3 separate regions of the Homo sapiens genome follow, and all the other regions are linked to region 2. Evidence: fine-mapped expression QTL. A gene starts in region 2. Each other region holds a variant in brackets. All regions are shown on one strand. Distances are between the middles of the regions. Region 1 overlaps PLBD2 (phospholipase B domain containing 2). Region 2 holds the start of SDSL (serine dehydratase like). Region 3 has its middle 10 kb from the start of PLBD2.

What was found. PIP is the estimated chance that this variant, and not a neighbour inherited with it, causes the effect.
Region 1: its variant is the best candidate, but not a certain one, in a credible set for the expression of SDSL in whole blood (INTERVAL, PIP 0.76).
Region 3: its variant is the best candidate, but not a certain one, in a credible set for the expression of SDSL in whole blood (INTERVAL, PIP 0.73).

What each region holds. Positions count from the first base shown.
Region 1 is chr12:113,361,674-113,364,433 of GRCh38, forward strand. All of the region lies in intron 1 of PLBD2 (phospholipase B domain containing 2), which reads left to right. Among named protein-coding and RNA genes, the nearest start is that of PLBD2, 4.5 kb to the left of the region's middle. RefSeq lists an enhancer at 2,038-2,538. The variant T/C (reference allele first, on the strand shown) is at 1,476.
Region 2 is chr12:113,421,144-113,423,903 of GRCh38, forward strand. SDSL (serine dehydratase like) reads left to right here and starts at 1,237. Exons shown (of 8, transcript NM_001304993.2): 1 at 1,237-1,334.
Region 3 is chr12:113,346,893-113,349,652 of GRCh38, forward strand. No RefSeq gene overlaps it. Among named protein-coding and RNA genes, the nearest start is that of PLBD2, 10 kb to the right of the region's middle. The variant A/C (reference allele first, on the strand shown) is at 1,054.

The DNA of each region.
Region 1 (2,760 bases), 59 kb before region 2:
CTTTGGGCCAACACCCCCACACAGCCTGGAAACATTTATGATTTGGTGCTTGGAGATCAGAGATGTCACTAGGAGCAGAGCCTGCCTCAGTCTAGCTCTGGCCTTGGTCCTGGGGAAGCTGTATCCTCCAACCTTACTTTGTCTTCCTTCCCTGATCTGATCCCACTGACCAGCACCTTATCGACGAGGTTGCTTAAAGTAAATCACCATCCCGTTGAGAGAGGAAGTGAATCAAAGTTAGAGGGAATTAACAAATTTAGTAAACGGGGAAGCATCCCAAATCCACCAACCAACAGGCAAAAACAGCCCAGTAAAATGGATAAATAAGGCCCAGCTGTTTCTTTGAACAATCACAGGAGATGAATCTATACCATCAAGAATGAGAAAGGAGGACAGGCGCTGTAGCTCATGCCTGTAATCCCAATGTTTTGGGAGACCGAGGCAGGAGGATGGCGAGGGGCCAGGATTTCGAGACCAGCTTGGGCAATGTGGTGAAACCCTGTCTCTGCAAAAAAAAAGTAAAAAATTAGCTGGGTGTGGTTGCGCATGCCTGTGGTCCCAGCTACTCGTTTGAGCCTGGGAAGTCGAGGCTGCAGTCAGCTGTGATTGTGCCACTGCACTCCAGCCTGGGCAACAGAGTGAGACCCTGTCTCAAATAAAAAAAAAAAAAGGCTGAGATAGGAGTGATAGACACAGTTATGGGGGGCATCCCACATAATGGAGAGCATCCAAGGCCATACTAGACTGCGGAAGTGGGGTGCTGATATTTGTGAGATATTTGTGGCCCCCTGCTCATATCAGTGGTCTGACTTTTTCCAATGTGGCCTCTTTCAAGAGGCACCTTGATTAGACTCTTGAGTCATCTTAGAGACATTAGCTGCCCCTGGCATGAAATTGCAATTTGGCCCATAGATTTTCCAGGAAAAAAAAAAAAAGATTGAGGAAACAGACCTACTGCTGCCAACTTTTAATTTTTGTCAAGCAAGTGCATTAAAAACAAAGGAGAGCAATATTTGTCAACCCCTGTCAGCGTTTATCTCATAAAAGATTGGCAATTTTAGAGCAAACAAGCAGAAAGGACATACTCTCTGAATAAGGAGTAATCTTCTTTTGATTTATTTTTTTTTTTTGAGATAGAGTCTGCTCTGTTACCCAGGCTGGAGTGCAGTGGCATGATCTTGGCTCATTGCAACCTCCGCCTCCTGGGTTCAAGTGATCTTCCTGCCTCAGCCTCCCTAGTAGCTGGGATTACAGGTGTGAGCCACTATACCCAGCTAATTTTTTTTTTTTTTTTGTAATTTTAATAGAGATGGGGTTTCACCATGTTGGCCAGGCTGGTCTTGAACTCCTGACGTCAGGTGATCTGCCCACCTCAGCCTCCCAAAGTGCTGGGATTACAGGTGTGAGCTATTGTGCCTGGCCGAAGAGTAGTCTTTAATAAGCACATCTAGTTATAGACACACTCTAAAGTGTTT[T/C]TCTGGCCGGGCGCTGTGGCTTGTGCCTGTAATGCCAGCACTTTGGGAGGCCGAGGCAGGAGGATTGCTTGAGCCCAGGAGTTTGAGACCAGCCTGGGCAACATGGTGAGACCCTATCTCTGCAAAAAATATAAAAAACTAGCTGGGCACGGTGGTGCGTGCCTGTAGTTCCAGCTACTCAGAAGCTGAGACGGGAGGACTGCTTGAGTCCAGGTGAGGCTACACTGAGCTGTGATCACGCCAGTGCACTCCAGCCTGGGTGACAGAGTGAGACCCTATCTCAAACAAAACAAAACAAAACAAATTTCTAGCAGTTTAGAAAGAGGGGATGGGATATGGGAAGTAAAAGCCTCCCCCTACCATTCTTCCTAGATATAAACATTTTTAGCTTTTTTTTTTTTTTTTTTTGAGGTGGAGTCTCGCCCTGTTGCCCAGGCTGGAGTCAGTGGCGCGATTTCGGGTCGCTGCAAGCTCCGCCTCCCGGGTTCACGCCATTCTCCTGCCTCAGCCTCCCGAGTAGCTGGGACTACAGGTGCCCGCCCCCACGCCCGGCTAATTTTTTGTATTTTTAGTAGAGACGGGGTTTCACCATGTTAGCCAAGATGGTCTCGATCTCCTGACCTCATGATCCACCCGCCTCAGCCTCCCAGAGTGTTGGGATTACAGGCGTGAGCCACTGCACCCGGACTTTTAGCTCTTTCTTCCAGAATTTTCTATGCATAAAGAGGCCTAAACCTTCTTGCATACATATAAATGTAGAGGCATATGTGGTGTGTGATGCATTTACACAGGGGCTTAGTTCGTGCCTACCATTTGGACTTCTCGACTTTTTTTTGAACTTCATCTCTGACCTCTTTGCTCATCAGCACATGCAGTCCGCTATGGCATGTGTGATTATTGTATCAGGCCCCTAATGATGGGTGTTTCGGGAAGGCCCGTCTTTTCTGGCTTTGAAGAGAAGTCCTGCTGTGAAGAAGGGCCTTTATGCCCATCTCTGCAGGGCTGTATGAGCATCCGGCCAGGGAATGGGTTCCTAACCACTGCCCGTCTCCGGGGCCTCAGTGCCGAGGCCTTGGCTGAGCCCACCCTTGCTAGAAGGGGTAGCTCTCACCAGGTGTGCCCTGGAGGAGGCCACTGGCCGCTCAGTTACTACTGGGGCTCGCGGCTGCACAGCTTTTTTGGTTTTACGCAGTTTGTCCGAGGTCTCCTTTGATCCACTGCCAGCTTTTATCACGAGGGGATCTGCATATTGGGCCCTGTTATAATCTTCCTCCCATCATCACAC
Region 2 (2,760 bases):
TCTGGATTGGTACAGGCATCCCTGTGGACTCTGATCTCTGCCCACATCTCCAGCCTCAACCCCACTTGCTTCCCCACCCCTGCCTTCTCCCTCCCAGCCCCACTGGATACTACCCTGACCCTGGAATATATCATGTTTTTCATTTCCAGACCTTTGCACTCCCTGTGCCTGACTCCTGGCTCCACTCAGACTTCCCCTCCTCCAGGAAGCCTCCCCAGCCCCCCAGGGCCAGGCGGGGTGCCTGCTCTGGGTTCCACAGCCCTGCCCCACCCTGCCAGCTGCTAACATCTGATAGCACTAATAAGTGCTCTCTAATGGCCCTCTCTAAGGGCTTTGTGAAGGCAGAGGACATGCTATTTTGTTTGAGGCCAAAGTTCCAGGGATTGGCACATAGTAGGTGTCCAATAAACATTTAATGAATGAATGAATGGTCAGTCATTCATCTGAGTAGCAAATAATTGCTTGGGTTCTCATGCTGCGTGTAAAATATCCGAGACGGAGAGGTGCTTCAGACAAAAATATACCTTTCCCATGTCACAAATAATAATTATAATAATTGTTTCCTTGGCCAGGTGCAGTGGCTCACGCCTGTAATCCCAGCACTTTGGGAGGCAGAGGCAAGCAGATCACCTGAGGACAGGAGTTCGAGACTGGCCTGGCCAACATGGTCAAACCCTGTCCCTACTAAAAATACAAAAATTAGCTGGCGTGGTGGTGGGTGCCTGTAAACCTGGCTACTTGGGAGGCTGAAGTGGGAGAATCGCTTGAATCCAGGAGGCGGAGGTAACAGTGAGCCGAGATCGCACCATTGCACTCCAGCCTGGGGGACAAGAATGAAACTGTGTCTCAAAAAAAAAAAGTTCCCTTGTCCTTGTTTTCCCATCCCAGACCTAAGCTGACCCCAACAGTGGTTCAGCATCCGGGACAATCACTAGACCTAAAATGAGAAGACATGGAGATGCCTGCATCCCGGAAGAGATGGCCCAGGGCCAGGGGTAAAGGCTGTCTCTGCCCCTTGCTGTCTGGGAAGCTTTGGCCAAATAAGTTCCCTTTTCTGAGTTTCAGTTTGCTCATCTGTCAAATGAGACAGGGTGGTGCATGAGTCATAGGCAGTGCCCGGGAAAGCGGTGAGGGTTGCTCTCATCCCCTCTCCTCCTCCGTCTTCACCCGGAGGCTTAGGGTCTGGAGCTTTCTCTTTAACAAAGGAGGAGGGACCAAGGTTGCCGGAAGCTGCCTGAAGCTGGACAGAGCCGGTTCCTGGAAAGAGCTGGTTCCCTGGCAGGCTGGAGGGCAGGAGCTGGGGCCACGCTGGTCTGGGATAGTTGGGCAGGGAGGTAAGGGGTCTGGGGCCAGCTGGGGCCCCTGGGGCTCAGTGTGTGTGTGAATGAGAGGCTGATGAGAGGCTGCAGGAGTTTGGGAGGCTTTGGGCAAAGTCCAAGCTGAGCAGGTGGGAGTGAGAGGGCCTGAGCGTGTTCTAGGCCCTCCTGGGAATGTCGATTGAATTCAGGGTGCCCTGCAGAAGAAAGTGTTGTGCTGGGGACCCTGAAGGGCGAGAGTGGGTTCTGCCTGCCAGAGGGGCAGGGTTGGGCATTCTGCCAGCCAAGGGGCCAGCCCGAGGTGTCCCAGCCCTGGCACCAGGGATTTGGCTGTGGAGTGCCACCAAGGTGGCCTCTGGGGAAAGGCTTTGGGGACAAGTGAGGTGGACAGCACTGGTGGTCCTTACCTCAACTCATAGATGTGACAGGTAAGGCCCAGTGACAAAAGTGACTTGGCCAAGGTTGGCATGACTGGGACCTGAGCCTGAGCCCCCTGCTTTCCCCTGGGTTATTCCACAGCAGGGAGACCCAGGTCCCCCATTTCAGCCCTGGTGGCTGCCATACGGGACAAGAGGTGTGTGTCCCTGGGCCAAGACAGCTCAGTCCCAGACCTCAGGTGCCTGATGGGGTCTGGGGTTGATAAGGCTGTTGGCAACTTGGGGCTTTTTCATTTAACTGATGCCTGCTGTCCTCTTGTGAGTCAGTATAACCAAGAGGGCTGGGGAAGCCTGGAAACTGAGCCAGGAGCATTTGGTTCCAAAGGACAATTGGCAATAAATATTAAATGCATGCAGCTTTCATAATAGTAACGATAACACTAGTATATTAGAGAAAGTATAGCATCGCGGTTAATAGCACAGATGCCAAAGACACTGCCTGGTGTGAATTCTGGCTATGCTGTTTCTAACTGTGTGAACTTGGATAAGTTACTTAATCTCTCTGGACCTCAGGTTCACTGTTTATAAAATGGAGTCAATGGTGAGTTAATGACTCATCTGTTGTGAGCCAACAGGTGGCTCACACCTGTTATCCTAGTGTTTTGAGAGGCAGAGACAAGAGATTTACCTGAGGCCAGGAGTTCAAGACCAGCCTGGACAACTCAGCAAAACTGCATCTCTATAAAAATTAAAATATCAGCCGGATACAGTGGTGCATGTCTACAGTTCCAGCTACTCAGGAAGCTGAGGTGGGAGGATTGCTTGAGCCCGGGACTTCAAGGTTACAGTGAGCCATGATCGTGCCACTGCACTCCAGCCCAGGCAACAGAGTGAGACCTTGTCTCTAAAACAAACACCAAAAAAACAAGAAAGCGGAAGGATTATGGAGTAGGGGGAGTTCATCCTGACAATCCCAGGATCCCCAGGGGAAAAATCTGGGGATTTCACCAAAAAGGAAGAGAGACCCAATTCCAAGTGGACAGACACCCAACATGGGTGCCCTTACC
Region 3 (2,760 bases), 74 kb before region 2:
GTGTTTGGTAGATCCTCCTGCATTCATTTCTCCTTCCTGCCACCCTGTGAAGAGGTGCCTTCTGCCATGATTGTAAGTTTCCTGAGGCCTCCCCAGCCATGCCGAACTGCGAGTCAATTAAACCTCTTTTCTTTATAAATTACTCAGTCTCTGGCAGTTCTTTATAACAGTATGAAAATGGACTAATACAGGGTGCTTTCTGCCTGGGGAGCTCTATCTTTTCAGCCTGCCTGGTGGCCTTGGATGGTAGGGACCTCAAAAACTGGCTGGAAGTGGGGGGTGGCCCCTGGACAGGGGCTGGGGAAAGGAGGTAGACAGACCAAGATACTGAGATGTGAAGTCTGCCCTTTGTCTGTGACTGCAAGCATGCTGAAGGTCTAAGGAGGTGGCACTAGGGGCCAGTGTGGAGAGGCTTTCATTTCTTCCAGGCTCAGCGAGGGAAGGTCGCTTTCCTAAGGTCACACAGCCAGCAAATAGTGGAGCTGGATTTAGAACTCAATTCTGTCTGACTCCACAACTCCATGCTCCTGCTGAAGTCAAAATAAAAATACAGTGATGACTCTCTAAATTTAGCGTTTTATTTGGGAAGGAAGAATTACAATATGGGGCATACACATAGATTGGGTGGTTTTCAGTATGTTTGAAGAACAAAGAGCAGGTTGGATGTTTTATAAAAAGGAGAAAGGGGCTGGTCATGGTGGCTCATGCCTGTAATCTCAGTGCTATGGAAGGCCTAGGCAGGAGGATCATTTGAGCCCAGGAGTTTGAGACTAGCCTGATCAACACAGTGAGAACCCACTCTACCAAAAATAAAAATAAAAATTAGCCAGGCATTGTGGCGCATGCCAGTAGTCTCAGCTATTTGGGAGGCTGAAGCAGGAGGATCGCTTGTGTCCAGGAGGTTGAGGCTGCAGTAAGCTACGATCACACCACTGCAGTTCAACCTGGGCAACAGAGCAAGGCCCCGTCTCAAAAAAAACCGAAACGTATTGTCTTGAAAAAAAGTTCATTGGCACTAGCAAAGTTTTGGGGAGCTGGAAGCTGTGATTGGTG[A/C]GTCACAGGGGTGGGTAAAGCTACTCTTAGAGTTGCAGCAGGGTGTTTCAGTAGCTATGAGATAAAACTAGTCTTAGGGTAACAACAGGCAGTTTCAGCAGCTGGGCTTCTGCAAAATTTAATTCTTGGAGCAGGTGCCATGTGCTCTGAGTGCCTTCTCTGCCTGGATATGACAAGAATGACTCACTTTGTATATAATCAACTGTCACACTCCTAACCATCACCCCACACCGCTGCCTGGTGAAAACGCTGATTGCCCTTGCTTCTGGCTGGTGATTTATTTTTTATTTGTAATTTTTTTTTTTTTTTTTTTTTTTTGGAGAAACACAGTCTCATCATCTTGCCCAGGCTGGTCCTGAACTCCTGGGCTCAAGTGATCCTCCCGCCTCAACCTCCCAAAGTGCTGAGATTCCAGGCACAGAGCCATTGTGTCCAGCCTGTTTGGTAAATTTTTTTTTTTTTTTTTTTCTGAGACAATCTCTCTCTCTTGCTCAGGCTGGAATACAGTGGCACAATCTTGGCTCACTGCAACCTCCATTTCCCAGGTTCAAGCCATTCTCATGTCTCAGCCTCCCGAGTAGCTGGGATTACAGGTGACTGCCACTACGCTTGGCTAATTTTGGTATTTTTAGTAGAGACAGGGTTTCACCATGTTGGCCAGGCTGGTCTCGAACTCCTGACCTCAAGTGATCCGCCTGCCTCGGCCTCGCAGAGTGCTGGGATTACAGGCATGAGCCCCTGCAGCTGGCCAGAAAATAATTTAAGTCTTGATCGTCAAATGTGGGAGCAATGCAGCTCTTGACCATCAGCACAGCTGAGGACCGCTGTGTGTCCCTTGTCTGGGGGACTCTGGTTTCCTTTCACCCTCCAGGAGAGGCTGAGGAAGGAATGATTTCTGGGGAGCTTCTAGCAGTGCAGGGGTCACCAGGCCAGCTGGGTCGGCTGGGATTTGCCTCAGCAGTCCTCAGATCGCAGCCTGTCCTCTGCCCAGCTGTGACTCCCCAGTGTCCCTGGCCATCTCCAGAGGCCTCCACCTACTCCTTCAAGGCCGGGCCCCTCCCTCCTTCCCTTGCTCCCTCTGTTCCTGACCTCCAGGGACACAGACGCCTACCCAACCTTGCCCAACACTTGGTCCTGATCTTGTCCCGCCCCAGCTGTCAGTTATCAGGCCTCAGAGGAGGGGACAACACCTCACACCCCAAAACCCCAGCTGCCTGCTCTTCCCCAGCTTTCATTCGTGAGTGTGCAGGAGGGGACGGGGAGGGAAGGAATTATGTCAATATCGTGAAAGAAAATGAGGCAGCTACAACTAAGGCTTTCTAAAGTGGGAGTCGGGAGACCGTGGGAGGATCGCACTCACACCGGCTGAAGGTCAAATCGCAGAATGTGCCAGTCGGTTTGGCTAACAATTGAAGTCAGAATCCACCGCCTTCAACCTCTCTTAGCTGGGAGTACCCTAATGAACTAACCAATCAGAATGGGCTTGCGATAGAGGATTTCCGCCCAGCCAATGAACTGCCTCCGAAACAACTTTTTGTGGAAATCCCTTATAAAAAACCTCTCCTGCCCTTGCCTTACGGGATGCTATTCAGGGCTGCCCTGAATAGTCCTATCTGATTCAGTGTACGCGAGTCGTAGTTCTTTGTTTCCTATATAAATGCTATTTCTTTTGACCTCCGTGTCAATCTCTTTTTTTAGTTAACAGCA